Linked DNA regions of Homo sapiens. The main gene of each other region encodes a partner of the protein of the gene in region 2 in a complex. Each region holds a gene or a part of one and is shown on either strand. Other genes may lie near its edges. The genes, in order: LRRC23, ROPN1L, DYDC1 and DNAJB13.

Region 1 (7,478 bases), on a different chromosome or scaffold from region 2:
CCCACACCTTTGGTCCCGGAAGTCGTATGTTGATGATTGTTGTGGTGGTAGTGTAAGAGCTGAAGAAAAACCCAGTCTGAGAGGAGGGTTTTCCTAAAACATTTCCACAGACTGATGTTTGTACCTCAATTATGGTCCATTTTGCTACTACCTGTATCAAGGTAAATTATCTCTGTATTATCCACACATTATATATTATCAGCCCTGCTAGGTGGCTGTGTATCTCCACAGCATCTGGAACCAACTATGGTCTTGATAATAATACCAGTTATTATCATAATGATGAAGTTAGTAGCTGAGCCTACTAGAAAGCAGGCATCCTGACCCCCAGGACAGTGCCCTCTTCCCTGCACCACCCTCTGACCCAGTGAGCTACCAGGTAGAGGTTCTTCAGCTTAGGAAGATTGATTCCCAGGGTGCTTTCCAGCTGGTTCCCCCGAAGCTCCACTGTGTGCAGGCTGATCAACTTCTCGGGGTCCAGACCTGTCACCATGTGGATGCTGTTCCCTGGGGAGGAGGGTTTCAAGAGCTCAAAGGGCCACTCCAAATGCTCAGCATTAGAGCCTGAATTTGGGGAGCCTCTAAATCATCCTACCATTCGCAAAGCAGGGTAGATACTGAGGAAGGCCAGCTCCAGACTTAATACCTCTGGAGCCCTGAGGCAAGTGGTGTGGTAGGTAGTCCAAGGTCCTGATGGACATATCCACCTAAGCCTTTGAAGAGTGAATGAAGCAGCTGACATGTCTAATTCCCTCTCCTTCTTCAATTCTTTGCTCAAATGTCATCTTCTCAGTGATGGTTGTCCTAACCAATCTATTTGACATTGCCACCTGTGTCCCCCATTCCTCTTACTCTGATCTATTTTTTCCAAGGCACTTGTCTCCTTTTAACATGCTACATGAATGTACTTACTGTGTTTGTTGTTACTTGTTTGTCTCTCCCAATTAGAATATAAGCTATATGAGAATAGGGACGTTCCTTGTCTTATTGGATCCTATATGGTTAGCATGTAGAACTGTCATAATGAATCATATTGCGTATCTGAATGAATGAATGAATGCAGACTGCCATGTGCCCTAGCCAAGGACCATACTGCCCACTTCTGTTGGCCTCAGGCTAGGAAGGAAAGAATCTTGTGTAGCCCATCCTAAAGACCCACCTTTGAGATTCAGGGTTTCAAGACGAGGATGAGAGATGCCTTCAGTGTCAGTAATCTGGTTATAAGCAAAACTAGCAATCTGCAGGTAGGGCAGTTCATTCATCTGGGCACTTCGCAGCCGATTGCCATCAGCCTTGAGCCAGAGCAGGTGGGTGAGGTAGTTGAGTGGAGACAGGTCTGTCAGGTGGTTCTCAGAAATATCCACATAGCGCAGATGGATGTAGGAGCGCAGCAAGTAGATGTCTGTCAGGTCCCTAGGAGATGGAAGAGGGAGAAGAAACCAGGTTTAGGGTTAAGCACCCAGTGAGGACTGGCAGAGTTGCTAAAGCAGAAGGCAATATGGAGATGGCTTATAATGGGGAGAAGAATGGGCAACAGATGGTAGGGGAGAAGAAGGGTAAGAGAAGGTAGGTGGGTTCTTAACAGTGGGCAGAGAGACCTGTGTCTGTGAAGGACAGAGAACCCATACTCTGAAAGACAAATAAGGGAATCCAGCAGGAATCCCCCCATATACTCTCAATCTCCAATTCCCCAGGTCAGCTTTGATAGGAGAAGTCTCAGAGCTCCTGAAAAGTAAATTCTGTCCTTCCCTTTCCACTAGGCATGAGAAGAGTCAAACTCTCAACCAGAACACCCAGGAATGACAGTGGGAAAGGAGATAGGGGCCCTACAGTCTCACAGTCCTCATCTGGTCCCCCCAAAACGCACCTCTCTTTAACCTCCAGCTTGACATAAGCATGAGCCAGCCCATTGCCTGTCTTACAGAGCAGAGAAAGCCCTTCCTTCATCATGTCCTCCGTGAGGGGGGTGGGCAGCCACTGCAGGTAGAAGTGGAGTAAGGTGTCTCTCCCCTGCCCAACCCCCTCCTTCAGCCCTAGGACCCCTCCTTGTCCAGGCTCTCACTTCCTCAGGGAACTCTTCCCCCTCTTTTCTGTAGTCCTCCCCCTCCTCTGTCTCCTTCTCGTCCTCTTCTTTCTCAGAATCATCCTGGTCTGGCTCAGAGTCTTCTAGATCATCTTCATCTGACATCTTTCTTCCCTCCTGAAAGCTCTGGAGTCAGATAAGCTCAGTCCTCCTCCTGAAAAAGAAGGTCTCATCAGCTTCTGCCAGCCTTCAGCTCCTTCATCGTCATTGACACGTGCCACTCCCATCACCCCCATGACTTCTGACCCACCAACTCTAGGCTTCTTTCCTTATCCCTGTGAACATCTCATTTTGATTCTCAACTCCCACTTCACACTTTCCACTGAGGACCCCCTCCCTTCAGGATGTCACCCACACCCCCAGGCCTTTCCTGTCCTTCACAGTGACTCCAGCTCTCCTCCAGCAGCCGGGTGTCCCTATTTCCTGGGCTTCCCTCTCCCCCATTCTTCCCACCTCCCCCTTAAGCCATGCTCTCCAATCTTCCCTACCAATTCCTCCTCCTCTCCTCTCAGCTCCCATTGCGCCATCCGTAATCCCTGCTCCATTCATTTCTTCTACTTTTCCCTCCCCACTGGGCCAATTTCCTTGGGCCCTCTGGTACACCAGCCTAAAGCGCAGTCTCCAACCCTCCCACTCAATTCGCCTTAGCAAAGGGGCTCAGACCCTGTTTCTGCTCAATCAGAAGCAGTTCTGGAGAGGCCCTTGGTCCCGAGAGGGAAGGACTGTTTAGCAAGCGGGCGAGGGGAAGGAGGGGTTGTGTACTGCTGTTATGGCAACGGGGACGGGGCACTTGGCAACTGCAGCTCGCCACCGTTGAGAGTAGAGCGGCGACTACCTGATGCGCAAATCAGCCGGGGAGGGGATTGATCAGTAGTTGCCTGGTTACCACGCCACTTTCCCGTCCCGGGAACCCGGATGAGGCGCGGAAGGGGCGTTGGGCCGCTAATTGGCTGAGGACAAAAAGAAGTGGGCAGGGCTGAGAAGCGAGAAGAGAGGGGGCGGGGCTAGTCATTACGTCACCCAAGACCTTAAAGGGACCGGACATCTTCAATGCAAAAGTATTGTGAATTCAGGAAAAACTCGTCCTTCGAAGCAAAAAGGGCGGGGCTGCGAGGAAAAGCAAGAAACACCAAGATAAGGGGTCTTTTCCCCTTCCCCCTATAGTTTCTGCTCATTAGTTATTTTCAGGTAGACCTTTGGAAGGTGGCTTGGTGGAGCGGAAGGAGTCCAGACCCAGATACCTTAAGAACTGGGTTGGAGTCTTGGCAGATCTGCATTTGCTAGCTAAACGTACCCAAGACTCTTTGTTATCTGTAGAATTAGCTTAACTATATCAACTGACAGGGATCCAGTATGAGTTATCCTGGACTGGTTTGATGCAAACCTTTTAGTGGGTGGAAGGCAGAAAATTCAACATCTGCCCACTAAAATACTCCTGATCCAACGTTGTTATATCAGTAATCAACAGGAACTGGCATAGCCAAACCCAGGCACTCAGGCCTGTCTGACATGTTGAAGGAGATGAAAAAGATGTTGAGATGCAATAAATATTTCTGGAGAGTTTGTGCGAGACATTATGTCAAACATCTTTACAACTGATATTTAATCTCTGCAACAGTCCTGTAAGATAGACATTTGAAAGAAGAGGATACTGAGGCTCAGGGAGGTTAAGATGACACAATTCCTGCCTGGGGAAAGGGGGATGTTACCAATCTTGTTGTGGAATCTAATGTAAATGAAACAATGAGGTAACCAGGTAAGATGGCATGTGATTCATTGTTAAATTGTGCCCACAGACTTTATATAACGGCAAAGTGGTCTGGTGGAAGATGTGGTGGGCAAGAAATCAGGAAGTATTATATTACCTCCTGCCCAGGGCAGCTTGGAGGAATGTGGTTAATAGGCAAATCTGTTTACTTGGTGTCATGGAACCAGTAGGGACTTTAAAGTCAGAGACACCAGCTTCAAAACCCATCTCTACTACTTAATACCTGTGTGTCCTTCAGCAGGTTATGAAATCTTACTGAGGTCTAATTTCCACAGTCGTGAAATGGGGATTATTAAAACGTCCACCTGTAAGGATTGTTAAGGGATTAAAAGAGATAATGTGGGTAAATCGCCTTGCACTTAGTTGACCCTTAGTAAACATTTTCCTGCTCCTCCCCACCCCTGGCCTGTGTCCTTGGTACTGGGGTTGCTGTGAGGAAAAAGAAATAATAAATATGAACACTCTGAAGAGTGAGATGTGCTATACAAATGAAAGTTATTGTATTGTTGGAGTGTGGAGAAGGGAAAAATCCATGTGGTTTGATGTAGTCAAAAGAAATGGATATGAGTTTCCTTGGCCAAGAAGAAAGAGGAAGACACATTAGATGGGAAGAAAAGTTGTGATGTAAGGGTTAGGAAGGTGTCCTTGAACATACACTTTTGTTATTTTGTTTTTATTTTTGTTTTGAAATAGAGTTTCCCTCTGTCGCCCAGGATGGAGTGCGGTGGAGCAATCATAGCTCACTGCAACGTCCACCTCCTGGGCTCAAGCAGTCCTTCCGTCTCAGCCTCCTGGGTACCTGGGACTACAGGTGTGCGCCACCATGCCAAGTTAATTTTTTTGTATTTTTTGTAGAGACAAGGTTTTGCTATGTTGCCCAGGCTAGTCTCAAACTCCTGGGCTCAAGCAATCCGCCCGCCTCGGCCTTCCAAAGTGCTGGGATTATAGGCATGAGCCACTGCGCCCTGCCATGCTTTTGTTAAGCACTTAATCTGTCCCTGTGCTCCGGGACAGTAAAGCACAGAAGTCCTTATCTTTTATCTTCAAGAGGTGTACAGTTCAGTGACAAGATTAAGTACACAAGTAATTCAATATAATGAGACATGTTATAATAATCATACCCAACATTTATAGAGCTTTTACTAAGTGCTAGGGATCATTGTATAGTATATGCATATACATGATATCATATATTCGGGGCAGAGATTTCAGAGGCAGGAATCACCTGTGGTAATGCTTGGAGAAGAAAGAGCTCAATGCCTGTGCAAAGAAAGCAGGTGGTTCTGCTGGCTGGAACAGTAGGTGCAGTCGGGGGTTGGAATATGGTAGAAGCAGTAAACAGACTTGGATCACACTGAAGGATCTGGACTTTATCCTGAAAGCTGTGGGGAGCTATTGAAGGTTTTATTTCGTGTTTAGTTGGCAAGGACTGAAGTTACACTGTGTAATGAGAGCTAGATACTCCACAACATCCTTGATATTTTTCCCCCATCGGCTGGTCTAGATAGAGTCTCTTTCAATTATAAAAGTAATATTTAGGCTGGGCGTGGTGGCTCACGCCTGTAATCCCAGCATTTTGGGAGGCCTAGGCGGGTGGATCACCTGAGGTCAGGAGTTTGAGACCAGTCTGGCCAATATGGTGAAACCCCGTCTCTACATACAAAAAATTAGCTGGGGTGGTGGCTCGCACCTGTAATCCCAGCTACTCGGGAGGCTGAGACAGCAGAATCGCTTTAATACAGGAGGCCTAGGTTGCAGTGAGCTGAGATCGCGCCACTGCACTCCAGCCTGGGCAACAAGAGTGAAACTCCGTCTCAAAAAAAGAAAAAAAATTAGCCAGGCGTTGTGGCTTGTGCCTGTAGTTTCAGCTACTTGGGAGGCTGAGACACGAGAATCACTTGAACCCGGGAGGCAGAGGTTGCAGTGAGCCGAGATCACGCTACTGCACTCCAGCCTGGGCAACAGATCGAGACTCTGTCTAAAAAAAAAAAAAAGCCAGGCGCTTTGGCTCACACCTATCATCTCAGCACTCTGGGAGGCCAAGGTGGGCGGATCACCTGAGGTCAGGAGTTTAACACCAGCCTGGCCAACATGGCGAAACCCTGTCTCTACTGAAAATACAAAAATTCGCCGGGCGTGGTGGCGGGCGTTTGTTATCCCAGCTACTCCGGAGGCGGAGGCAGGAGAATCGCTTGAACCTGGGAGGCGGAGATTGCAGTGTGCTGACATCGCACCACTGCACTCCAGCCTGGGCAACAGAGTGAGACTCGGTCTCAAAAAAAAAGAAAAAAAGATTTTTAGATTAGTTTAGGGTTTTTTTCTTCTAATTATTCAATTCTAATATGTCTTGGGCTTCTTTCATGTCACTAAGCATAAATCTACCTCTTTTTCTCATAGTTGTCTAGTCTTCCATTATGTGGATATACTACCACTTTCCTTTCTTTCTTGCGTTTTTCCTTTTTTTTTTTTTTTTTTTGGTGTTGTTTTTTTTTTTTTTGAGATGGAGTCTGGCTCTCTCTCCCAGGCTGGAGTGCAGTGGCGTGATCTCGGCTCACTGCAAGCTCTACCTCCCGGGTTCACGCCATTCTCCTGCCTCAGCCTCCAGAGTAGCTGGGACTACAGGCGCCCACCACCACACCTGGCTAATTTTTTGTATTTTTAGTAGAGACGGGGTTTCACTGTGTTAGCCAGGATCGTCTCGATCTCCTGACCTCGTGATCTGCCCTCCTCGGCCTCCCAAAGTGCTGGGATTACAGGCGTGAGCCACCGCGCCCGGAACTTTCTTGTGTTTTTCTAGAGACAGAGTCTCACTACATTGTCCAGGCTGAGAGGCAGGAGAATAGGGTCCGGAGGCAGGGAATCTAAGGCCGAATCATGCTGACTGAATATCAGAGAGTACTCCCTTTTCAAACCCTCCTTTCTCTGTATGGCATTTGAAAAATGAAAGTACGTCTGATTGGTCCCCTCTCACAACCAGTCAGACTGATAGCAGGCCTACTCTCTTCATTTTGATTGGTCCCCTCCCACAATTAGACTGGCAGTCGGCCACTACTTCATTTGCATAGGGTGAACCAATGGGAAACCTCTAGATTGTATTTAAACCCCAGAAAATTCTGTCACCAATGCTCTTGAGCCACTTGCTGGAGCTTGCTCCCACTCTGTGGACTGTACTTTCCTTTAAAATAAATCTCTGCTTTTGGTGGATCAAGAGGTCAAGAGTTGGAGATCAGCCTGGCCAACATGGTGAAACCCCATCTCTACTAAGAATACAAAAATTAGCGGGGCGTGGTGGTGCAAGCCTGTAATCCCAGCTACTCAGGAGGCTGAGGCAGGAGAATTGCTTGAACCCAGGAGCCGAGATCGTGCCACTGCACTCCAGCCTGGGCGACACAGCAAGACTCCGTCTCGCGGGCACGGTAATTAAAAAAACAAACAAAAAAAATCTCTGCTTTCATTGCCTTGCTTTGTTTGTGTGTTTTGTCGAATTCTTTGTGCAAAACACCAAGAACCTGGACAATTACCCTCAACCGGTCACAGCTGGAGTGCAGTAGTTTTTCACAGGCACAACTGATGCAGGGCAGGTGAACACCCAAATTGGCGATTAGCCCAATAAGGCTCATGGTTCTT
Region 2 (7,706 bases):
ATCATCCAGGCTGGAGTGCAGTGGCACGATCTTGGCTCACTGCAACCTCTGCTTCCCGGTTTCAAACAATTCTCCTGCCTCAGCCTCCCATGTAACTGGGACTACAGATGCGTGCCACCACACCAAGCTAATTTTTGTATTTTTAGTAGAGATGGGGTTTCACCATGTTGGTCAGGTTGGTCTCGAACTCCTGACCTCAGGTGATTCATCAGCCTTGGCCTCCCAAACTCTGGGATTACAGGTGTGAGCCACCATGCCCAGCCTGATTAAGCCTCTTAAAGTGAAGTTTAGGCCAGGTGCGGTGGCTTACACTGGTAATCCCAGCACTTTGGGAGGCCCAAGTGGATAGATCACCTGAGGTCAGGAGTTCGAGACTAGCCTGGCCAACATGGTGAAACCCCATCTCTACTAAAAATACAAAAATTAGCCGGGTGTGGTGGCAAGTGCCTGTAATCCCAGTTACTTGGGAGGCTGAGGCAGGAGAATCGCTTGAACCCGGGAGGCAGAGGTTGCCGTGAGCCGAGATCTCGCCATTGCACTCCAGCCTGGGCAACAAGAGTGAAACTCCGTCTCAAAAATAAATAAATAAATAAACAAAGTGAAGCTTAACATAACTATCTCTAAGGTATTACTAAATATAGTTTAATGTTCCAAGAAGATGTTGCTAAATCTTGGAATTTTTTGTACAGCACAAACTCTTATAAATCCTTTTATTTAAGCTTGAATAATGGTTAAAACCAGAGGCTATATTTCTTTAGCAAGAACTTTGAAAGAGTCTTTCAGAAACCATTGATAAAAGCATTTCTCAGAAGGCAAGCACTGGATGGACAAGTAGCTCAGTTGGTGGGTAAAATAACAGCCCCAAAGGTATCCAGGTCCATGTTCCAGGAACCTGGGAATGTTACTTTACATGGTAACAGGGATTTTGTGGACTGATAAGGATCTCGGGTGGGAAAACTGCCCTGGACTATCTGGATGGCCACTGAATGCAATCACCAGTGTCCTTGGAAGAAGGAGGCAGAGGGAGATTTGAAGATGCTGGCCTTGAAAATGGAGGAAGGGGACATGAGCCAAGGCGTCCAAGAAATGCAGCTCTAGAAGCCAGAAAAGGCAAGGAAACGAGCTGGGTTTTCCTGAGAACCACTGGAAAGAGCAAAGCCCTGTCAACACCTTGATTTTAGCCTAGTGAAACTAATTTGGACTTCTGGCCTCCAGAACTGCAAGAATGTATGTCTGTGTTTTTTTTTTTTTTGAGACGGAGTCTCGCTCTGTCGCCCGGGCCGGACTGCGGACTGCAGTGGCGCAATCTCGGCTCACTGCAAGCTCCGCTTCCCGGGTTCACGCCATTCTCCTGCCTCAGCCTCCCGAGTAGCTGGGACTACAGGCGCCCGCCACCGCGCCCGGCTAATTTTTTGTATTTTTAGTAGAGACGGGGTTTCACCTTGTTAGCCAGGATGGTCTCGATCTCCTGACCTCATGATCCACCCGCCTCGGCCTCCCAAAGTGCTGGGATTACAGGCGTGAGCCACCGCGCCCGGCCCAAATGTATGTCTGTGTTTTAAGCTGTCAAGTTTTGTGGTGATTTGTTACAGCAGCCAAACGAAACTAATTCACTTTGGTTATAGAGTTTAAAGCCAGCAAAATTTGGCTGTTTTTTTTCTTTTTAAATTAGTTTTCTTATTAAAAAAAATACAGATGGGGTCTTGCTGTGTTACCCAGGCTGGTCTCAAACTCTTGGGCTCAAGTGATCCTCCCAGCTTGGCCTCCCAAAGTGCTGGGATTACAGGCATGAACCACCAAGCCCAGCCAAAATTTGAAATGTTGATGACTAAAATATTTAAATTAAATTTACACCTGTGCTGACTCTTGTCATCATAAAAGTGAGTTTTTGTTTTACATCTGTTTATTGAAAAGGGGCAAAGAGCTCTCCTGTAAAACCAAGAGGATTTCTTTTAATGCCTCTAAGATCTGTTGACTTGTAACTTTGAGATTATGAATGTCTGTTCCTGGCAAGTGTTGGAATGTTTGTGGCAAAAAATAAACTGTGAAGCTTCATTTGCTGGACAGTTTACCCTGAGCACTCTAGGGATGATGACCTCAGTATGACCACGGTCGTTCCGGTTCTAATAAATTTAACCAGCTCTGGGTATACATAGCTCTGAGAGGACTCTCTGCAGATGAGGAACTTAGCTAAAATATTCCTCTTTGTAAAGTCATTTCACAAAGTGACTGCAACCGTGTAATTTTTTTAACATAATGTAAACACTTTTTTGCCCAATGCAATTACTTTGTTAAGTTTTAGTCTATCTTCATCATAAACACTTTTAAACAATTGAGTTGCCATTACGTTGTAGGTAAGTGAGCATTTTGCAATGATTTCGGGTCTCATAGTCGATAAATCGAAATGGTTCCTAGATAAAACACTCAAGTATAGATGTCACCAATGCTAAGGGGAAAGTTTTGCCTGATACTCTTAAGGACGCTGAGTGCCGCGTAAGGCCCCTGGTCCGGGAGGAGGGCTCTCTGGGCTCGTCTGGCTTGGGCATGTAGACCGGACAGCTCCCCGGGCCAAGGGCGCTTACCCCGCGGACCACCGCAGCACGTCGGCCGGCTGGGTGCGGATGGCAGCCTTGGTGAATTGCTTCAGGATGTCCGGCAGCTCCGGGGGAATGTGGATCTGCTGAGCGCAGAACATGGTGTCGGGAAGCGGCATCGCTCTCCGCAGAAGGGACCAGGCTGGTGAATCGCGGCGCGCTGCGAGGAAGAAGGGCGGCTGTCGGCTACGACGCGGTGGACCCGCTAGCAGCGCGGGGCTTGCGGCCAGGGCCGCCTCCCATCCCGTTCCCGAGGTTGGGGCCGGATTCGCGGGGCTCTTACCCGCTCCTCCGCGGGCTTCGGGAGAAATTCGGACCAACTGCCACTCCGACAACACCCTAGACCCTGCAGTTCCCTAGCGCCAGCCGCCACTACGGACGCGCTCGGTATCCAGGCACCCGGGACGCGAGCAGGCCCCGCCCCTGGAGCCGCGCACGCGCACGCGGCCCTGAGCGAGGCGGGGCTGCTCCCGGGCTGGACAAGGAGGTGCTGGCGTAGTCCGACTAGCAGCAGCCGCTGCTCCCCGGTGGTTCAGAGCCGCGCGAGCTGAGCGTTTCGCCTACAAAAGCATCTTCGGATCGGTTTCCCACCGCCGAATGTGAGCGGCGAACTCACGAAGGACTCCCTCTTCCCCTTGCTCTGGCTGCGTGAGGCTGAGGCTAGGGGACTCGGGCCTGCTAGGAGGGAAGCGGGTTAAGTGAAGGGGCTGATCGCCTGGGCGGCACGGGCCCCGCTGCGGGACCCGCCTGCGCCTGGGGCCGCTCCTCCAAACTTCTCGGGCTTCGAACTTCGCACATGCTGTTCCCTGGCCTAAGCCATCCCGTAGTGAACCTGAGTTCTTAATTTAAAAAGCCGCTTAGACAGTGGGCAGTTTCCAGCTAAAACACTATTGTATTTGTTTTCTTACGATAGGTTGCTTGAGCCAATGTGACTGGCTCTAGGAGGAAATAAATCACATCTGTCAAAAGAGCCTCGAGTCGAAGGATAGGAGAAACCTCGAATTTGGTGGGTGCTGACCAAGGCACCATGCAAGGGGTTAACTTTGCTTTAGGGGGTGACCTGGCTGGCTGCTGCAGTTGCCGTTAACAGCCACCGAATGGATGAGACTCCAGATCCACCTCCTCCTGCGTTCCTCAAAACAGGAAGATGGAGAACTACGGAGAGCTACTTCCCAGAGGGGCCGATGGCAAGCACTCCCTTCAAGGAAACTGGGGAAGTTGCCCGATTTTGATCGTTTCCATCCAAACACCCACCAGACAATATATACATACACATTTCTAAATTAACAGCATTGGCAAAAACTGAAAATACTTGTATTTAAAGTTGATGACAGTATGAAAACAAGAAATCCGTCCGGGCGCGGTGGGTCACGCCTGTAACCCCAGCACTGATCACAAGGTCAGGAGTTCGAGACTAGCCTGGCTAACATGGTGAAACCCCCTTCTCTACAAAAATTGGCTGGGCGTAGTGGCGCGTGCCTGTATTCCCAGCTACTTGGGAGGCTGAGGCAGGAGAATAGCTTGAGCCCGGGAGGTGGAGGTTGCCGTGAGCAGAAATGGCACCACTGCACTCCAGCCTGGGCGACAGAGTAAGACTCTGTCCCCGCCCCCCTCCACCCAAAAAAAGAAAAAAAAAAAAAGGAATCTTCTATGTTGTTGAGAGGGATGTTAATTAGTACCTTTATGGGGCAGTAATGTAACACTAAAATTTTTCGATGATCGTGCAATATTACTTCTGGGAACTTACCCTACAGAAATACTATAAAAAGTAATATGGACAAAAATCTTCACCATATAAATTGGGTAAATGTCTTTTGGAAAACAAATCATGGCCTGGCCACACAATGGTATGAAAAGATGCCCGTGTAAAGTGAAAAAAAGCATCTTGTCAAACAATCTGCATAGTATGACACCTTTATTGTGATAAATGATTCTGTGAAGGTATGTCTGGAAGCACACAACTAAACTATTAACAGCAGTTACCTCTGGGAAATAGGACAGGGATTTCAGGTTTTATTTTGGCCATAGACACATTATTTTGATTCTAAATTCATCATTTATTTACTAACTTAGCATTACTATTGAGTACCAAATATTTGCCAGGGAATTGTTCTGGGAATACAGTAATAATTCAGTTTAAAAAAATAAAATCTTTGGAGCTTACATTCAAGTGGGAAACAACATGCAAATATAAACAACAAAGGTAAACCATATAGTATGTTTAAAAGTACAAAAGAGAGCCGGGAGTACAAAATACAGCAGGGAGATGAGACAGGAATGCCCCAGTAGCTGCAGCTTTAGATAAGCCTCAGTGAGAATGACACTTCAGGAAAGAAATGAAGAGGCTAAAGAGCCTGAAGAACATTTGGGTATTGCAAATAGTAAGTGCAAAGGCACGAAGGCCTGACCTGTTTTGGAGGCAGGGAGGACGGCAGGAGCAGGGTGAACACAGAGGTGATGGGGTCAGAGAAGGGAGAAAAGGGGTGCTTCATGTTTTGCCCAGCATTGAAGGCTATTGTGGACTTTTGAGTGCCATGGTCGTCTATTGGAGAGTTCTGAGGGTTGGTGTGATCTGACTTGGATCTCAAGAAGAACATTCTGGATTCAATGTTGAAAACAAATGGAAAAGGAGAGAGAGCAGGGGCAGAGGCAGCAAGCTCAGGAGAAACAGCGATTAAGTAAACAATGGGTTTACTTGTTCAGTTTTGAGACTTCTTTATGTAATCTAGATGCAACTCATTTATCAGAAATGTTTTGCAAATATTTTTCTGCCACTCTACAGCTTGTCTTTTTGTTCTCCTTATGGTACCTTTCAAAGAGAAGTTCTCAATTTTGATAAAGTACAATTTATCGATTTTTCCTTCATGGATTGTGCTTTTGGTGTTGGATTTAAGAAATCTTTTCCTAACCCAAGGCTGAACACGTTTTCCTTGTTGTCTTCTAGAAATTATACAGTTTTGGGGAACTATAATCCATTTGGACTTTAATCTTTGCCAGTGTTAAGATATGGATCAATTTGTTTTTAATTTTGCATCTGATGCCCAATTATTCCAGCATCATTTTTTCAAGACCTTTGCACCTCTGTCAAAAACCAGTTGTCCACATACATGTTGGGTTATTTCTGGACTCTATTCTGTTCCATTAGACCAATGCACAGCCAGCAGAAGGGACTGATCCCAAAAACATATGAGTGAATGAAGAGGAGTACTGGGTATGAAGCTTCTCATCTTTAGGTGTATCCTAAAGAAGAGTTACTGAACAAACACAGAGAAGCAGAAAAACTCCGGCACTGTTACATATGTGAAGAAAAGTTTCAAAATGATAACTAAACAATGTAAAATGAGGCAAAAAGGGGCCTCTACGTAGTGTTTACGTATGAGTGGTCTTAGAGAAGTGTGTGACTAAGTAGAACTAGATTGCAGAAGGCTGAAAGAGTAATGGCAGGGGGACCTACATATACCAAACAGTCACTAAGGAAGTGGCTAGGCCATCTCTCCCGGGTGAACCTTTCTCTGTGTTCCCCATGGCATTTTATTCATACCTCTGTAATACAATCTTTTGCTCATGCTTCTGTTCCATTCTGAGTTCCTTGAAGGGAGACATCATACCTCATTCAACTACAGTACTAAATACAGTGCTAGAAACAAAACAGACACCAAAATAAAAACATGGAGGAGGAGGGGAACGTTACCCTCTCAGCCCCTTGATACGTTAGTTCTCCTTATCACTACATGTTTGCAACAAGAGTAGCTATGAACTGTGGAGCGGAAGGGGGAAATTAATGGCCAGTTTCTGAACTTGACCATGCAATTTCCTTTGCTGAAAAATTTCAGCTTCACAGATTAAAGATGTCTATGGTTCGAATAGCATTTCCTCTATCACCCCTGCATTTAAAGTAATTAAAAATGCACTTGTTTGGGGGAAAACAATCATGGAAAAAATTCTGAACCTATAAACAAAGAAAAATTAGAAATAGTCTGAAGCAAAAGGATCTCCTCAGGGCACTCAGAAGGAAAAAAACATCACGCAAGTCTTTCCTTTTTATCTGGGACATATGGTCAGGTATGTACAATGGATTTGATTGGTTTTACTCTAAGTATTCAGCTAAAAGACAACCTTAGTGAAACTGACTTTCTGATCTCGTAGCAGACATGCAGAAGTGGGCAGTAGCTTGCTATTGCACAAAATGTGGGGCCTTACTCTTCCCAGTGAGGACGGTCTACAGTTCAAGTTAGGGAGACAGAAGGGGAGGGATGTGTCCTCTGCAACTATGCATTTAAATGTATACATAAAAGGGAGTCGCCACAGTCACATTTAACTGGAGTTGTTTTTCCTTCCTATTATAACATCTGGATTATCTATGCTGGCTAATAATGCATATTTCTGCAATCTTAAAGCAATCTTGCAATAACACAAAAACAAACAAAAAAACTAGACTACAATTAACATTCACTTTATTCAGTTTTGTCCTCTCAACTTAGAAGGCAACAAATGACCACATTAAAAAGGGAGCATTTCAGAATATATATACATAAAATTGGTCTGGGTACCCTAAGGTGTTTGCGTTGATAGAAAATTGACACCCCAAACTAAGTGTTCTACTTAGCTTCTACAATAGTTATTCCTAGACCTTAGATTAGTCATTACATTTTTATTTAAGGTACTATGTTACTTTCATGACTACAAAATGAGGCACTCGTACAAAACAGGAATGAAAACATACATATACTGTCTTGTCTTTATGTCGTATTAATGCCAAAGATATTGTCAGGGATTATTTTAAAGAAGCCCTTACTCATGATGGCTATTTTTAAAAATGGCACAGGACAGTAACAGGCTGAAAAGAAAACACCTGGTTGAGGGGACAAATTAAGTAAATACAAGACAGCTTAACCAAGGAAGTCAGCGAATCTCCACAAATGAGGCTTTTAATAATACTTTACTGGTAAGACATTTTAGTTGGGTTTTTTTTTGATGGCTGAATAACATCCTAAAGAAGTATTTTAAATATAATCTTTTAATTTTACAATGTAGAAAACTTCTCACAGTAAGTAGAGAGCTTAGAGTACTCAACCCTGAAAATGAAAATAAGTAGCTAGCTTGGAAAGTTTT
Region 3 (7,168 bases), on a different chromosome or scaffold from region 2:
CTGGGATGATGATACCCATTTTTCAGGTATGTTGTGAGGATTACATGAGACCCACATTACTTGGCATCAAGTAAACTTGAAATCAATAATGATAATATCTCTTTTCTGACTCTTGGACTTGAGAGTCCTTCAGGATTTTGAAACCATGTTAGTTGTAGTGACTTCCTTGGAGCCCTTTTGGAAACTATGTGAAACCCAGTCTCTACTGAAAATACAAACAAATTAGCTGGGCGTGGTGGCGGGCGCCTGTAGTCCCAGCTACTTGGGAGGCTGAGGCAGGAGAATGGGGTGAACCTGGGAGGCGGAGCTTGCAGTGAGCCAAGATCGTGCCACTGCACTCCAGCCTGGGCGACAGAGTGAGACTCTGTCTCATATATAAAAAAAAATATATATATATATATTTTTTCCTGAGAATCTGATGAAATGTAATCAATTGTTAAACAAATGTATAATGAATATTTGCCGGGCACAGTGGCTCACACCTGTAATCCTAGCACTTTGGGAGGCTGAGGTGGGTGGATCACCTGAGGTCAGGAGTTCGAGACCAGCCTGGCCACAATAGTGAAATGCTGTCTCTACTAAAAATACAAAATTATCTGGGCGTGGTGGCACATACCTGTAATCCCAGCTACTTGGAAGGCTGAGGCAGGAGAATCACTTGAACCCGGGAGGCAGAGGTTGCAGTGAGCTGAGATTGTGCCATTGCACTCCAGCCTGGGCAACAAGAGTGAAACTTCGTCTCAAAAAAAAAAAAAAAAAAAAGAATACCTATTATAGGTCAGGCACCATGATAGGTACTGGGAATACAAAACTATTGTGAATTGAATATCTGTGTCCCCCAAAAATCCATATGTTGAAATCCTAACTCCCAATGTGATGGTATTAGGAGCCTTTGGGAAGTGATTAGATCATTAGTGTGGAGCCGTCATGCATGGGATTAATGCCCTTATAAAAAGAGATGGGAGAGCGTGCTCTCACTCTCTGCCATCTGAGAATAAAACTAGAAGACAGCCACCTGCACACCAGCCAGAGGGTCCTCACCAGACACCAGAAATGCCAATGCCTTGATTTTAGACTTCCCAGCCTCCAGAATGGTGAGAAATAAATGTGTATTGTTTTTAAGCCACCCAGTGTTGGTAATTTGCTACAGCAGCGCAAACTAAAACAAAAACAGTCTCTGCCTTCATGGAGCTTATAGATGAGAAAGGAAGATAAATATTTAAATCAATAAATATGAAATTGCAGTTAAAATAAGTACTATGAGACCAGACAAGAGGAGTAGCTGATCAAGTCAGGAAAGTAAAAAAAAAGCTTCTTTGGGGGTGACATTTGAGCTAAGCTTACATTTACTGAAAAAAAAAAACAGTAAAATTAACACGACAAAGAAGAGAAGAGTCTTCTAGGTATGAGGAAAGGCCCTGATATAGGAATGAGCATGGCAATTACAGGGGATAGAATGCCACTGTGTCTAAACTTGTCCCTGGACAAATGCATCTAGCATTTTGCATAAAATTTCAGAGACAGTGACATCCTGGGGTCCGTCCATAACCCCCAATTTTTATTCTATGGATGAACCCCAGGATGTCAGTGTCTCTGAAATTTTATGCCATAACTATGTGCATATGCCATATGACAGTGGTGGGAGGGCAAAATGGTATAACTCCTATGGAGGAGAATTTGACAACATCTAGAAAATCACATATGCATTCACCCTTTGACTCATCAATCTTGCTTCTTGGATCCTATCTCAAAGATATAGTTGCAAAAATATGAAATGGCATATGCACACAGTTATTTGCAGCATTATTTACAATAGTCACACTGAAGCACCATCTAAATGTTCATCAAATTGGGGATTAATAAGAGCAACACAATGGATTATTATGCAGATGTACAAGAGAATGAAGAAACTAGAGAGTGATCTCTAAGACACAGAATAAAGAAAACGAGGTGCTGAAATTGTATATGGTCTGTCATCTTTTGTATTAGCAACAGCAGTGGGGAAAGGAATGTGTATGTGTGTATATGTAAACATAGTCATAAAAACTCTAAAAACGGAAAACAAACTGGCACAAATGAACCTAATTCCAAATGAGGTTGATATTGGTGTCTCAACCATACAGAGAAAAGAATTATTACAACTGACTTTGGAACACAGTATCTTCACTGTATTTCTTCAGTAGGATATACCTGAAAGACCAAAACGCTACACAGACATCTCAAAGTCATTTGAAGTGAAGTTAAAAAAAAAAAAAAAAAAAGGTGCACAGACTCCTGTTGCTGCTCCAGAAGGATAAAATGTGGGAAGGGAGGAAGGGGACCATTATCCCTAAAGAGAAAACTTCTGGCCTACCAGCGGGGCCAGGTCAGGGGAGGCTCTGTCTCGGATTTCTGGGCATATCAGTGGGACCCAGGCAAGGCCTGCCAACTCCCTTAGCATGTTCCTGTCTGTGAAACGAGGATAATACCCATCTCTCCTGTGGTAAGCAATGTTATTTTTCACATACACCAATAGGCATCTTGGCTCAACATAAGAAAGCCCTTTCCCACAGAAACAGCTGCCTCCAGCGTGAAGAAGGTGCCACAGAGATGGAAGGAGATTCCTTACCCACACCTGGGAGACAGCTAGCCAGCCAGCCAGCCAACTGGGCGGGGGCACCCGGGCAGGGGTGCCAGATACAGTATTGTATCTGGCAACCTCCCGGGGCGCTCAGTGTGGTTTTCCCACCCGGGAGTCTGGAAGGGTCTCCCGCAGCCCGCAGGAGACGCAGCGCTCCCCGCTCAGGGGGAGCAGGAGGACAGCTGGCCGCTTTCGGGAGCCCCAGGCGCGAAGCGGCCTCTCTCCGCCTCAGGTGAGTCCTGCTCGACGCCCAAGGCCCAACGGTCAGAACCGCCTCTGCCCGCCGGACCCAGCGAAGCTAGGGGAACAAATCCCAAAAACAGTTCGGGCCTTTCCGGTGCGCTCACCCCTACACACGCGCCTGCTCGCCACCCAGGAGCGGCGTCCCGTTGCCAGGCAACGAGAGCTCGCGCCTCAGGAGCCAGTGTAGGCGCCGCAAAGCGGAAGGGGCGCGCGGATAGGTGAGCAGAGGGCACGCGGTGGGCAGCGAAGGGGGAACGCGCAGCAGAGAGGAGAGGGCGTGCAGGAGTAGGAGCAGGCGGCAGAGTAGAGGGGGCGCGGCAGAGTAGAGGGGGCGCGGCAGAGTGGAGGGGGCGTGCAGGAGTAGGAGCCCGCCGCAGAGTAGAGGGGGCGCGGCAGAGAGGAGGGGGCGTGCAGGCGCGGGGCGCCCGGCAGAGAGAAGGGGTCGTGCGGAAGGGGGCGCGCGCCAGGGGAGGGGGCCAGAGAGGAGGGGGCGTTCAGGAGTCGGGCCTGCGGCAGAGATGAGGCGGTGTGCAGGAGGGAGAGCGCGCACGAGGGGGCAACGGGCAGAGAGGAGAGGGAATGAAAGAAGGGGAGCGTGGCAGAGAGAAGCGGGCGCGCTCCAGGGGGCGGGGTCCAGGGAGGAGGGGGAGCGTAGGATCGGGGCGGGAGGCAGAGAGGAGCGGGCACGCGGGACGGGCGTGTGCTCGTGAGGGGTCGAGGAAAGGCGTATGTGGAGGCGCGCGGGGTGGGTGAGCCGAGGAGACTTGCTACACAGAAACCTGGAGGAGTAGGGGCACACAAAAGAGCAAGGGACCCTGACTGGCAGCCCGGCATGCTCTGGGAGAGACAAAGAGGTGGCGGGCTTTGAGGAGGAACCAGGAAGGGCAGCCAATCGGAAAAGGGTGGAAGACCTTCCAGAGTCCCTGGAAGACCGTCACTGCAAGCTGCTAATAGCTTGGCAGTTTCACAACTCTGCACCTTTGCTCTTGCTGGTGACCTCTGCTTGGTTCCTTTCAGAACCAATTCGGGTGCCCCACCACCGGGAAGCCGTCCAGTCTCCACCAGGCCCAAACCCTTGCAGTCTTCCCTGGCCTAGTCGTCTGTGCATGTGCTAGCCTTTCCTGTGCTCTCTTTCAGCTTATGGGCGGGGCAGTGCCAGGCAAGAGAGGCCTTAATAGATGTTAGTTGAGCTAGTAAATGCCAGATTGGGCGTGGAAAAATCAAAGGGAAGCATGAGGGCAGGTGGCAGAACTCTCTCAATGAATAAGTCAAGAAATATTTACAGAGCTCCCAGTGTGCCAAGCGTGGGCGGTATACAGTAAACAAAGACAACCCCTATTCTTATCACCTTGCCTACTGAGTGCAAGTCCAGGAACTGTGTAAGCAGACCCTCAGAGGAGCTCTGGGAAACACTGAAAAATAGCCTCTCCCCCCATTGGTGAGTGTACCCTAAGTTGGTCTGAGTGGGCTTTAAAAGGCATCCCCTTGGCCAGGCGCGGTGGCTCACCGCCTGTAATCCTAGCACTTTGGGAGGCGGAGGTGGGCGGATCACCTGAGGTGAGGAATTCAAAACCAGCCTGGCCAACATGGAGAAACCCCATCTCTACTAAAAATACAAAAATTAGCCAGGTGTGGTGGCGCACACCTGTAATCCCAGCTCCTCAGGAGGCTGAGACAGCGGAATTGCTTGAACCAAGGAGGCAGAGATTGCAGTAAGACGAGATTGTGCCACTGCACTCCAGCCTGGGCGACAGACCAAGGCTCTCTCTTAAAAATAAAAAATAAAAGGCATCCCCTTGACTCCTTCCCCTCCAGCCCTCAGATTATGGCTCTATGCTGGCTCTACTGTCTTTGTACCATATTTTAGCGACTGTTGGGCAAACACATTTCCTTCAGATCATTGTTGAAAATGGGCAATTTAGAGTAGGGGGAGGTATGCCAATACGGCTTGCCACATGTAACCAGTGTGGCAGCCACCCCCTGACTAGAGAATGCAGAGTTGGTGATTCTGCCTTCGGGGAAGGACAGTTCTACAGTGATCCAGGCAAAGTAGATTGGTAACTACAGGTCGCTTGGAGATTTTATTAACATGCAGGTTCTGAATCTGTGGTGGGACCTGAGATTCTGCATCTCAACAAGTCCCAATGTGTCCAGAATTGGTGGGTTCTTGGTCTCACTGAGTTCTAGAATGAAGCCGTGGACCCTCACAGTGAGTATTACAGTTCTTAAAGGCGGCGTGTCCAGAGTTCGTTCCTTTTGATGTTCGGATGTGTTCAGAGTTTCTTCCTTCTGGTGGGTTGCTGGTCTCCCTTCAGAAGTGAAGCTGCAGACCTTTGCAGTGAGTGTTACAGCTCATAAAGGCAGTGCAGACCCAAACAATGAGCAGCAGCAAGATTTACTACAAAGAGCAAAAGAACAAAGCTTCCAGTGTGGAAGGGAACCCAGAGCAGGTTGCAGCTGCTGGCTCAGGCAGCCTGCTTTTATTCCCTTATCCGGCCCTACCCACATCCTGCTGATTGGTTCATTTTACAGAGAGCTGATTGCTCTGTTTTACAGAGAGCTGATTGGTCCATTTTGACAGGGTGCTGATTGGTGTGTTTACAATCCTTGAGCTAGACACAAAAGTTCTCCAAGTCCCCACTAGATTAGCTAGACACAGAGCACTGATTGGTGCATTTACAAACCTTGAGCTAGACACGGGGTGCTGATTGGTACATTTACAAACCTTGAGCTAGACACAGAATGCTGATTGGTGTATTTACAATCCCTTAGCTAGACATAAAGATTCTCCAAGTCTCCACTAGACTCAGGAGCCCAAATGGCTTCACCTAGTGGATCCCGCATCAGGGCTGCAGGCGGAGCTGCCTGCCAGTCCCACGTAGTGTGCCCGCACTCCTCAGCCCTTGGGCGGTCGATGGGACCGGGCACCGCGGAGCAGTGGGTGGCGCTCATCAGGGAGGCTCCGACAGCACAGGAGCCCACGGTGCGGGGGAGGCTCGGGCATGGCGGGCTGCATGTCCGGAGCCCCGTGGGGAGGCAGTAGAGGCCCGGCAAGAATTCGAGCAAAGTGCTGGCAGGCCGGCACTGCTGGGGGACCCAGCACACCCTCTGCAGCTGCTGGCCCAGTGCTAAGCTCCTCACTGCCTGGGGCCTGCAGTGCTGGCCGGCTGATCCGAGTGCGGGGCCCACCAAGCCCGCGCCCACCCGGAACTTGCGCTGGCCTGCGAGTGCCACACGCGGCCCCATTTCCCGCCCGCGCCTCTCCCTCCACACCTCCCTGCAAGCAGAGCCGGCTCCGGCCTTGGCCAGCCCAGAGGGGCTCCCACAGTGCAGCGGCGGGCTGAAGGGCTCCTCAAGCATGGCCAGAGTGGGCACCAAGGCCGAGGAGGTGCCAAGAGCAAGAGAGGGCTGCCAGCACGCTGTCACCTCTCACCCAGGTGATGGAATGCTGCTGGTCATCTGTCGTCAGACTAGCTTTGAGTAAGAGGGGTGTAGAAGTTTGTTTATCCAAATGCATTGGTTCAAGTGGGCCACACAGATTGGCAGGAGACACCACCCACCTCTGTCCCCACCCTCCATCACTACCCCACTCAATTTTTTTTTAATTCCCTTACAGGTCTTGGGGTCAGAAGTCCAAAATGAATCTTATAGAGCTAAAACCAAAGTGTCAGCAGGGCAGGTTCCTCAGGAGGCTCTGGGGAGAATCCATTTTCTTGTCTTTTCCAGCTTCTAGAGGATACCCTTGGCTCAAGGCCCTGAATCACATCGCTTTTTCTCCCTTGGCTCTGTCATCACCTTCCCTGTCTGACCGTACTGTGTCCCTCTTATAGTGACACCTGTGATTACATTGTTCCTACTCAGATAATCCAGGATAATCCCCCTATCTCAAGATCCTTAATTTAATCACAGTTACAAAGTCTCTTTTGCCATTTAAGGTGACATATTCATAGTTTCCAGGTATTCAGACATAGACACATTTGGGAGCCATTATTCAGCCCTAGAACAAGGACATTCTCTTACTCATATTTCCATTATTCAAAATTAAGAAATTTAACTTGGATAAATTATGTCACATAATCTACATTTCACATTCAGTTCAACCAATTTTCCCAACAATGCCCTTTATAGAATTCTTTCTTCTTCTTTTCTTTCTTTCTTTTTTTTTTTTTTTAGACAGGGTCTCGCTCTGTCACCCAGGTTGGAGTGCAGTGGTGAGATCTCAACGCATTGCAGCCACAACCTCCTGGGCTCAAGTGATCCTCCCACCTCAGCCCTGCCCCCAACCCCTCCAAGTAGCTGGGACTG
Region 4 (7,324 bases), on a different chromosome or scaffold from region 2:
TTATTATTATTATTATTATTATTATTATTATTATTATTTTATTATTATTTTTGAGACAGAGTCTCGCTCTGTCGCCCAGGCTGGAGTGCAGTGGCGCAATCTCGCTCACTGTAAGCTCCACCTCCCGGGTTCACGCCATTCTCCTGCCTCAGCCTCCCGAGTAGCTGGGACTACAGGTGCCCGGCTAATTTTTTGTATTTTTTAGTAGAGACGGGGTTTCAGTGTGTTAGCCAGGATGGTCTTGAGGGAAGAGAGCGACCATCTCATATTGTTTTATACTCAGTACCTGTTTTAAAAAAAAGCAACAAGGAAGTAAAACCAAAGACAGGCAGCCCAGCGCCAGGCCTGAAACCAGGCCTGGGCCTGCCTGGCCTAAACCCAGTAGTTAAAAATCAACTCATAATTTAGAAACCGATGTTATTCATAGATTCCAGACATTGTATAGAAGAACATTGTGAAACTCCCTGCCCTGTTCTGTTTCTCTCTGACTACCAGTGCATGAAACCCGTCACGTACCCCTTGTTTGCTCAAATCAATCACGACCCTTTCATGTGAAATCTTTAGTGTTGTGAGCCCTTAAAAGGGACAGAAATTGTACACTCGGGGAGCTCGGATTTTAAGGCAGTAGCTGGCCGATGCTCCCAGCTGAATAAAGCTCTTCCTTCTACAACTCGGTGTCTGAGAGGTTTTTTCTGCGGCTCGTCCTGCTACAGTCTCGATCTCCTGACCTCGTGATCCGCCTACCTCGGCCTCCCAAAGTGCTGGGATTACAGGCATGAGCCACGGTGCCCGGCCCAGCCATTTTTATTTTTTTGAGACAGGTGTTGCTCTGTTGCCCAGACTGGAGTGCAGTGGTGCAATCATAGCTCAATGCAGCCTCTACCTTCTGGGCTCAAGCAATCCTCCCACCTCAGCCTCCCAAGTAGCTGGGACTACAGGTGTGTGCCATCATGCCCAGCTAATTTTTAAATTTTCTGTAGAGACAGGGTCTCCCTATGATGCCCAGGCTGCCCTCTCAAACTCCTGGGCCCAAGGGATCCTCCTGCTTTGGCCTCCTAAAGTGCTCAGATTACAGGCATGAAACACCATGCCAGGCCTTAATCACTCTTTATATGACATGGTTTCACATGCAAATGATTGCTGGACACATGCATTATCTCATCTAATCCTATTTCAATCTCACAGCAACCTTTATTATGATGATGATTTTTAGACATGGGAAAACTTCGGCTCAAAGAGGTTAAGTAATTTGCCCAGGTCACGCAGCTAGCAGGTAAGTGAATCTGGATTCTGATCCAGCCCTTTCCAGTGCTTAAGCTGTGCTTATCTTTCTGCACGCCCACTGCCCTTCCTCCTGATTACCTTTCCCTGGATGGGTCCTTCTGGTCAATGAGATGCTCCGAAGAGTGGGTGACATCATACACTGTCCTGAATTGTTCTCAGATCCTTTCATGAGTTTGTGTCTTTTTTCTCCAACACCGCAGACTCTCCACTTATGCCACTGATCCCCTACAGGACCTGGCCCAGGAATAGGCCCATGACTGGCAACTCTGGGAGGCCTGATATCTGAACACTGGCTCCACCATTTACTAGTGCACTTGTGGGATAATAATGGCACTTAATTCTCAGGGCTGTTGTGAGGGTTAAACAGTGATGGAAAGTTCTCAGAACAGCACCTACACACTCAAAACATACACCTATTGTCACTGCCTAACTTAATTGATTGAGTTATCCTGGACTCCTCTTTTCTTCACCCTCCAGTGATCCACTTAATTACCAAGTCCATTCCCTCCCCTTTCTCTGGCCTCATCTTTTGCCTTGATTACCACGAACAGCCTCCTAAAGGGTCTCTCTCCTTCCAAGATAACTTCCACAGCCCCCCATACTTCCTCTTCTGTAACACTCATCACAGTTGTGGTGACTTATTCAACATCTATTCAGCAACAAAATCTAGCTGCATGAGGTAAGGGAGTGTCGATGTCGGATTCCGACATTTATCTCCAGCTGCTACCACTGCAGCAGGAGTGAAGTACCCTCTCAACCCTTGTGGTAGACGCTCAATAAATATTTGTTAAAAAAAAAAACATGTTTTTGGCCAGGTGCGGTGACTCACACCTATAATCCCAGCACTTGGGAAGGCTGAGGCGGGTGGATCACCAGAGGTCGGGAATTTGAGACCAGCCTGACCAAAAAGGAGAAACCCCATCTCTACTAAAAATACAAAATTAGCTGGGCATGGTGGTGCATGCCTGTAATCCCAGCTACTTGGGAAGCTGAGGCAGAAGAATCGCTTGAACCCAGGAGGTGGAGGTTGCGGTGAGCCGAGATCACGCCATTGCACTCCAGCCTGGGCAACAAGACCAAGACTCCGTCTCAAAACAAAAAACAAAAACATGTTTTCAGAAAAATGTACTGACTCCTGTTGTAGGCTTTCTTAGGAACGAGCCAGAACGTCCTTAAGATCCGATGGAAGTATTCAGGAATGTAGTTTAGTCAATGCTGAAAACCTCCATCATGGCCAGAATTGAATTTAAAACATCCATCTGGCCTGGCCACTCCCTTGTTCACAAGCCTCTGGTTCTCCATAATATTCAAGATAAAGTTCAAATGGCTCCTTTGTCCCCACTTCATTGCTGGGAAAAGCAAGGCACCCAGGAGAGGATATAGGGCATGGAGCATAAAGGGAGATGGGTTGGGAGCAGATTGAGGAACTAAAGAGTTCAAATTTCCAACCTGGGCCCTGACCCAGACCAAAGCCAGGATACAGGTATGCAAGAAGTGAAAGGAGGAACAAGGTTTACCTTGTCTGCGCTAAGCTGTGCAGGAAAGCTCGTTTTGGAAGAGAAGAGGGCAGGGCCTGCCCCAGCACACCCCTAAGGCCTGGCTCCCACCCCAACTTACGCCTGCTTGATCTGGGCATCCTCTGAATTGCGAGTGATCCCGAGCACAGAGTAATAATCCTGGCCCATGGCTGGCTAGCTGGCAGTCAGGCCCTGGATAGTCCTCAGACTCTAGCAAGGCTGTTAGTTGGCTTCCTTGGTTGCTCCTGACAACCGCACAGGTGCACTCTGGGAGTTGTAGTCCCACTTCCCTAAACAAATTTCAGCTCTGCCACAGAGAGGAGTCAGTGAAAGGACTGGGGGAGAGCTGGGGCTGATTCTGCGACCCTGTGAAAGGTCACTCAACTCGGAAATTGAAGACTCACAGGGCTCTGTTTTATTTTGTTTTTGTTTTTAAAGAGAGCAGTAATTAGTTTTAATAAAAAGGTTTTAGAAGAAATGCATTTGGCTAATTTTTTAAAAATACATTTATTTTAGAACAGTTTTAGAGTTTAGAAAAGTTGAGAAGACAGTACAGAGAGTTCCCATATACCTCACATCCACATTCTCCTATTTTATTATTATTATTATCATTATCATGTTTTTGAGACAGGGTCTTCACTCTGTCACCCAGGCTGGTGGGCAGTGGCAGGATCACACCTCACTGCAGTCTCAACCTCCCAGGCTCAAGGGATTCTTCCACCTCAGCCTTCCAAGTAGCTGAGACACAGGCGTGCACTACCATGCCTGGCTAATTTTTGTATGTTTTGTAGAGATGGGGTTTCACCATGTTGCCCAGACTGGTCTTGAACTCTTGGGCTCGGCTTGGCCTCCCAAAGTGCTGGGATTACAGGTGTGAGCCACTGCATTCACATTCCCCTATTATTAACATCTTACATTAGTATGGTACATTTGTCACAAATAATGACCAATATTGATACATTATTATTAACTAAAATCCACATTTTATTCAGATTTACTAGTTGTTTTAACCTAATATCTTATTTCTGTTCCGGACCCCATCCAGGATGCCACGTTACACTTAGCTGTTGCATCTCCTCTGGTGCCTCCTGACTGTGACAGTTTCTCAGACTTTCCATGTTTTTGATGACCTTGACAGTTTAAGTAATAATGGTCAGGTGTTTTGTAGAATGTCCTGCAATTGGAATTTGTTTGGTGTTTTTCTTTTTGTTTGTTTGTTTTTGTTTTTTGAGATGGAGTCTCACTCCATCGCCCAGGCTGGAGTGCAGTGGCACAATTTCAGCTCACTGCAACCTCTGCCTCCCGGGTTCCAGCGATTCTCCTGCCTCAGCCTCCCAAGTAGCTGAGATTACAGGCATGTGCCACCATGCCCGGCTAATTTTTGTTATTTTTACTAGAGACGGGGTTTCACCATGTTGGCCAGGCTGGTCTCAAACTCCTGACCTCAAGTGATCCACCCACCTCAGCCTCCCAAAGTGTTGGGATTACAGGCGTGAGCCACCGCGCCAGCCCTCCTTCCCCACTTGCTGTATTGCACTCTTTGGAAGGCAGTCACTGTGCGGCCCACCCTTACAGTGAGGGAGTTATGCTCCACCTCTCTGAGTACAGCAGAGCCCTGTTTTCCATGCACATCCCAAATCCAACTGGTCACCAAGCTCAGTCCATTCTGCTTCCTAGACAACCTCTCAAGCCCAGCTCCTCTGCTCTTCCTCCTCATAATCAGGGCCCAGCTCTGGATTCATCTTTCAGCAAGACCACAACAACTTCCTCGCGGGCCTGCCTGCCTTGTCTCTGTTCTGCAAAGCCCACACTCCTCATTACTTCGAGTGAACTCCAAACTGCTTACCATGGCACACAGGCCCTCTGTGATCTGGTGCCTCCCTTTCCACCTGAGCTCTCACCACTGCCCTACACGCACCCACTGCTTGTCAGAATGGACTGCAGTGCCTGCCACTGCCCAAACCAGCCATCCCCTCTCCTCATTCACCTCTGCTGCTACCTCTGCTCAGAACCTCCCACCCCACCCACCACAGACCCTCGCCTCAACCCAGCTAACTTCTATTTGTTTTTTCTTCTTAGGAAGAAAAAGAGCAGCATTAGAACATTCCTTGTTGAAGGAATATTGCCCCGATGTGCCCCTCCCTACCTGTTTGTAATTCTCTTGCTTTTCTTTAGAGCTTTACTCCATATGCCTGTACCCAGTGGTGTGCTGTTTTGTGGCATTTGCCAGTTCTTCCCAAGCCAGTACAAGCCAGCTCCAGTGCCACACTGCAAATATCCACAGCAACATATTTACCTTTTCATATTTTTGAACTTTATATAAATGGTATCATTTATACAAATGGTAGGTATTTGTGTGTGTGACTTATTGTCACAGGCTGTATAGTACTCTCTGTTGATGAACATTTGGGTATATGCGCCCACTTTGCAAGGCAATGCCAAAGTTTTCTGGTGTGGTTTTCTAATTTACGCTGGCAACAGCAGTGTATCAGTTTCTTTTGCTTCATATCCTTACCAACTCTTTTTTTTTTTTAAGACAGGGTCTCCCTCTATTGCCCAGGCTGGAGTGCAGTGGTGCGATCATGGCTCAACCTCCTGCAGCCTCGACTTCCTGGGCTTAAGCAATCCTCCTGCCTCAGCCTCGCAAGTAGCTGGAAACCCAGGCACACACCACCACATCAGGCTAATTTTTAAATTTTTTGTAGAGACGAGGTCTTGCCATATTGTGCAAACAGGTCTTGAACTCATGGGCTCAAGTGATCCTTCCATCTCAGCTTCCCAAAGTGCTGGGATTATGGACATGAGCCAACACTCCTGGCCCTCACCAACTCTTGATGTCAAGTTTTAAAACGTTTGCCAATATAGTAGGCATAAAGTGGCATCTCATTGTGGATTTTAATTTGCATTTCTTGGTTGAGTATCTTTTCATACTTATTGGCCATTTGTTTTTCCTCATTGTGAAACACCTATTTATGTTTTTGCCCATTTTTTTCTATTTGACTATCCTTTTTACAAACTGACAGGCCGGGCATAGTGGCTCATGCCTGTAATCCCAGCACTTGGGGAGGCCGAGGTGGATGGATCACCTGAGGTCAGGAGTACAAGACCAGCCTGACCAACATGGAGAAACCCCATCTCTACTAAAAATACAAAATTAGCTGGACATGGTGGCGCATGCCTGTAATCCCAGCTACTTGGGAGGCTGAGGCAGAAGAATAGCTTGAACCTGGGAGGCAGAGGTTGCGGTGAGCAGAGATTGTGCCACTTCACTCCAGCCTGGGCAACAAGAACGAAACTCCGTCTCAAAAAAAAAAAAAAAAAAAAAAACTGACTAGTGGCTTTTTATGTTTTTTGAAAACAAACTCTTTGTTGATAATATGAAATACGAATCCTTTCTTCAACTTGAAGCTTTTTTCACCTTTTTAAAAGTCAAATGTATCAATCTTTTCCTTTCTGGTTACACGTTTTGTGTGTGTCTAGTTTAAGAAATATTTCCTTATGTGAGGGCATAAAGATCTTCACCTATATGATCTTCCGAAAGTCCATTTCACATTTAAATATTTAACACACCTAGAGTTTATTTTTTTGTATATGGAGCAAGATAGTATCTTTTCTGAAAGATATCCAACTGCTCAGATCATTTATTTAATTGTCCATTGTCTTCCCACCGATCTGTACTGACTGCTGTGTTAGATATGAAATTTCCACATATGCATGGGTTGGTGTCTGGAACTACTGTCCATTGGTCTATCACTGGGGCAATGTGTTGCTAGAAGAGCTGAGGCAAGTCTTGCTTGTCTGACATAACGTAAGAGAGTCTTGGAACATGTCCTGGGTCCAGGGTCTAAAACCCCTCGTGGCCTTTGGAACACCAAGCTCTGTGCCAAAGGGTGGAAGGCTGCCCTGCCACACCACAATCTAAGCCCAGGGCATAAAACCCCTCGTGGCTTGGATGCAATCCAGGGCTCAGGGAATAAAACCCCTTGTGGCCTCTGGAATGTGTCCAGACTTGCTGGCTCCTTGCTTCTTGCTGTCCCAGGTTTGTAAATTGATTGTTATCTTGAGATAGAAAAACACGTTCTCCATTATCTCGAGTAGCAGAGCATACTCCATATGCTTAAAAGAAAATGCTAAACTGCCACAGCTATAGGTCAAACGCTTGATGCACCGCTTCCTTTCTAACCCCATGTCCTCACGTCCTCACCACCTGCTTCTGTTTGATCACCAATAAAGAGCGTGGGCTCCCAGAGCTCAGGGCCTTCGCAGCTGCCATACTGGTGTTGGCCCCCTGGACCCACTTTATGCATTCTTGTCTTGTCTCATTCCTTCGACTCTGCCAGACTTTGTAGCCCCCACAGCCTGGTGTTGGGTCTGATCACTCCAACATTTCTGGCACCCAATGTGGGGCAACGAAAACCCCTGTGAAGGAACGCTAGAGCATGCGGAAGCAGAGGACAATTGTCAGAGGACACCAGAGGATGACTGAAAGAAGCTCGGCAGGTAAGCTGGACGCTTGGAAGAAC

The links.
Region 1: ROPN1L (region 2) and LRRC23 share a complex: the UniProt entries of both Homo sapiens proteins name them as parts of the axonemal radial spoke complex.
Region 3: ROPN1L (region 2) and DYDC1 share a complex: the UniProt entries of both Homo sapiens proteins name them as parts of the axonemal radial spoke complex.
Region 4: ROPN1L (region 2) and DNAJB13 share a complex: the UniProt entries of both Homo sapiens proteins name them as parts of the axonemal radial spoke complex.

The regions. Positions count from the first base shown.
Region 1 is NC_000012.12:6,900,344-6,907,821, reverse strand, and holds the start of LRRC23 (leucine-rich repeat-containing protein 23), read right to left. Parts: upstream 3,001-7,478; 5' UTR 2,747-3,000; intron 2,238-2,746; 5' UTR 2,189-2,237; coding exon 2,063-2,188; intron 1,978-2,062; coding exon 1,868-1,977; intron 1,414-1,867; coding exon 1,160-1,413; intron 508-1,159; coding exon 377-507; intron 1-376. UniProt on the Homo sapiens protein: Essential for sperm motility and male fertility. Plays an important role in the proper assembly of the third radial spoke (RS3) head and the bridge structure between RS2 and RS3 in the sperm flagella.
Region 2 is NC_000005.10:10,437,175-10,444,880, reverse strand, and holds the start of ROPN1L (ropporin-1-like protein), read right to left. Parts: upstream 3,003-7,706; 5' UTR 2,714-3,002; coding exon 2,583-2,713; intron 1-2,582. UniProt on the Homo sapiens protein: Functions as part of axonemal radial spoke complexes that play an important part in the motility of sperm and cilia. Important for male fertility.
Region 3 is NC_000010.11:80,353,745-80,360,912, forward strand, and holds the start of DYDC1 (DPY30 domain-containing protein 1), read right to left. Parts: upstream 3,012-7,168; 5' UTR 2,968-3,011; exon of another isoform or gene 2,516-2,967; intron 740-2,515; exon of another isoform or gene 617-739; intron 1-616. UniProt on the Homo sapiens protein: Functions as part of axonemal radial spoke complexes that play an important part in the motility of sperm and cilia. Plays a crucial role during acrosome biogenesis.
Region 4 is NC_000011.10:73,946,715-73,954,038, reverse strand, and holds the start of DNAJB13 (dnaJ homolog subfamily B member 13), read right to left. Parts: upstream 3,014-7,324; 5' UTR 2,970-3,013; coding exon 2,902-2,969; intron 2,865-2,901; exon of another isoform or gene 2,802-2,864; intron 1,632-2,801; exon of another isoform or gene 1,363-1,631; intron 1-1,362. UniProt on the Homo sapiens protein: Functions as part of axonemal radial spoke complexes that play an important part in the motility of sperm and cilia.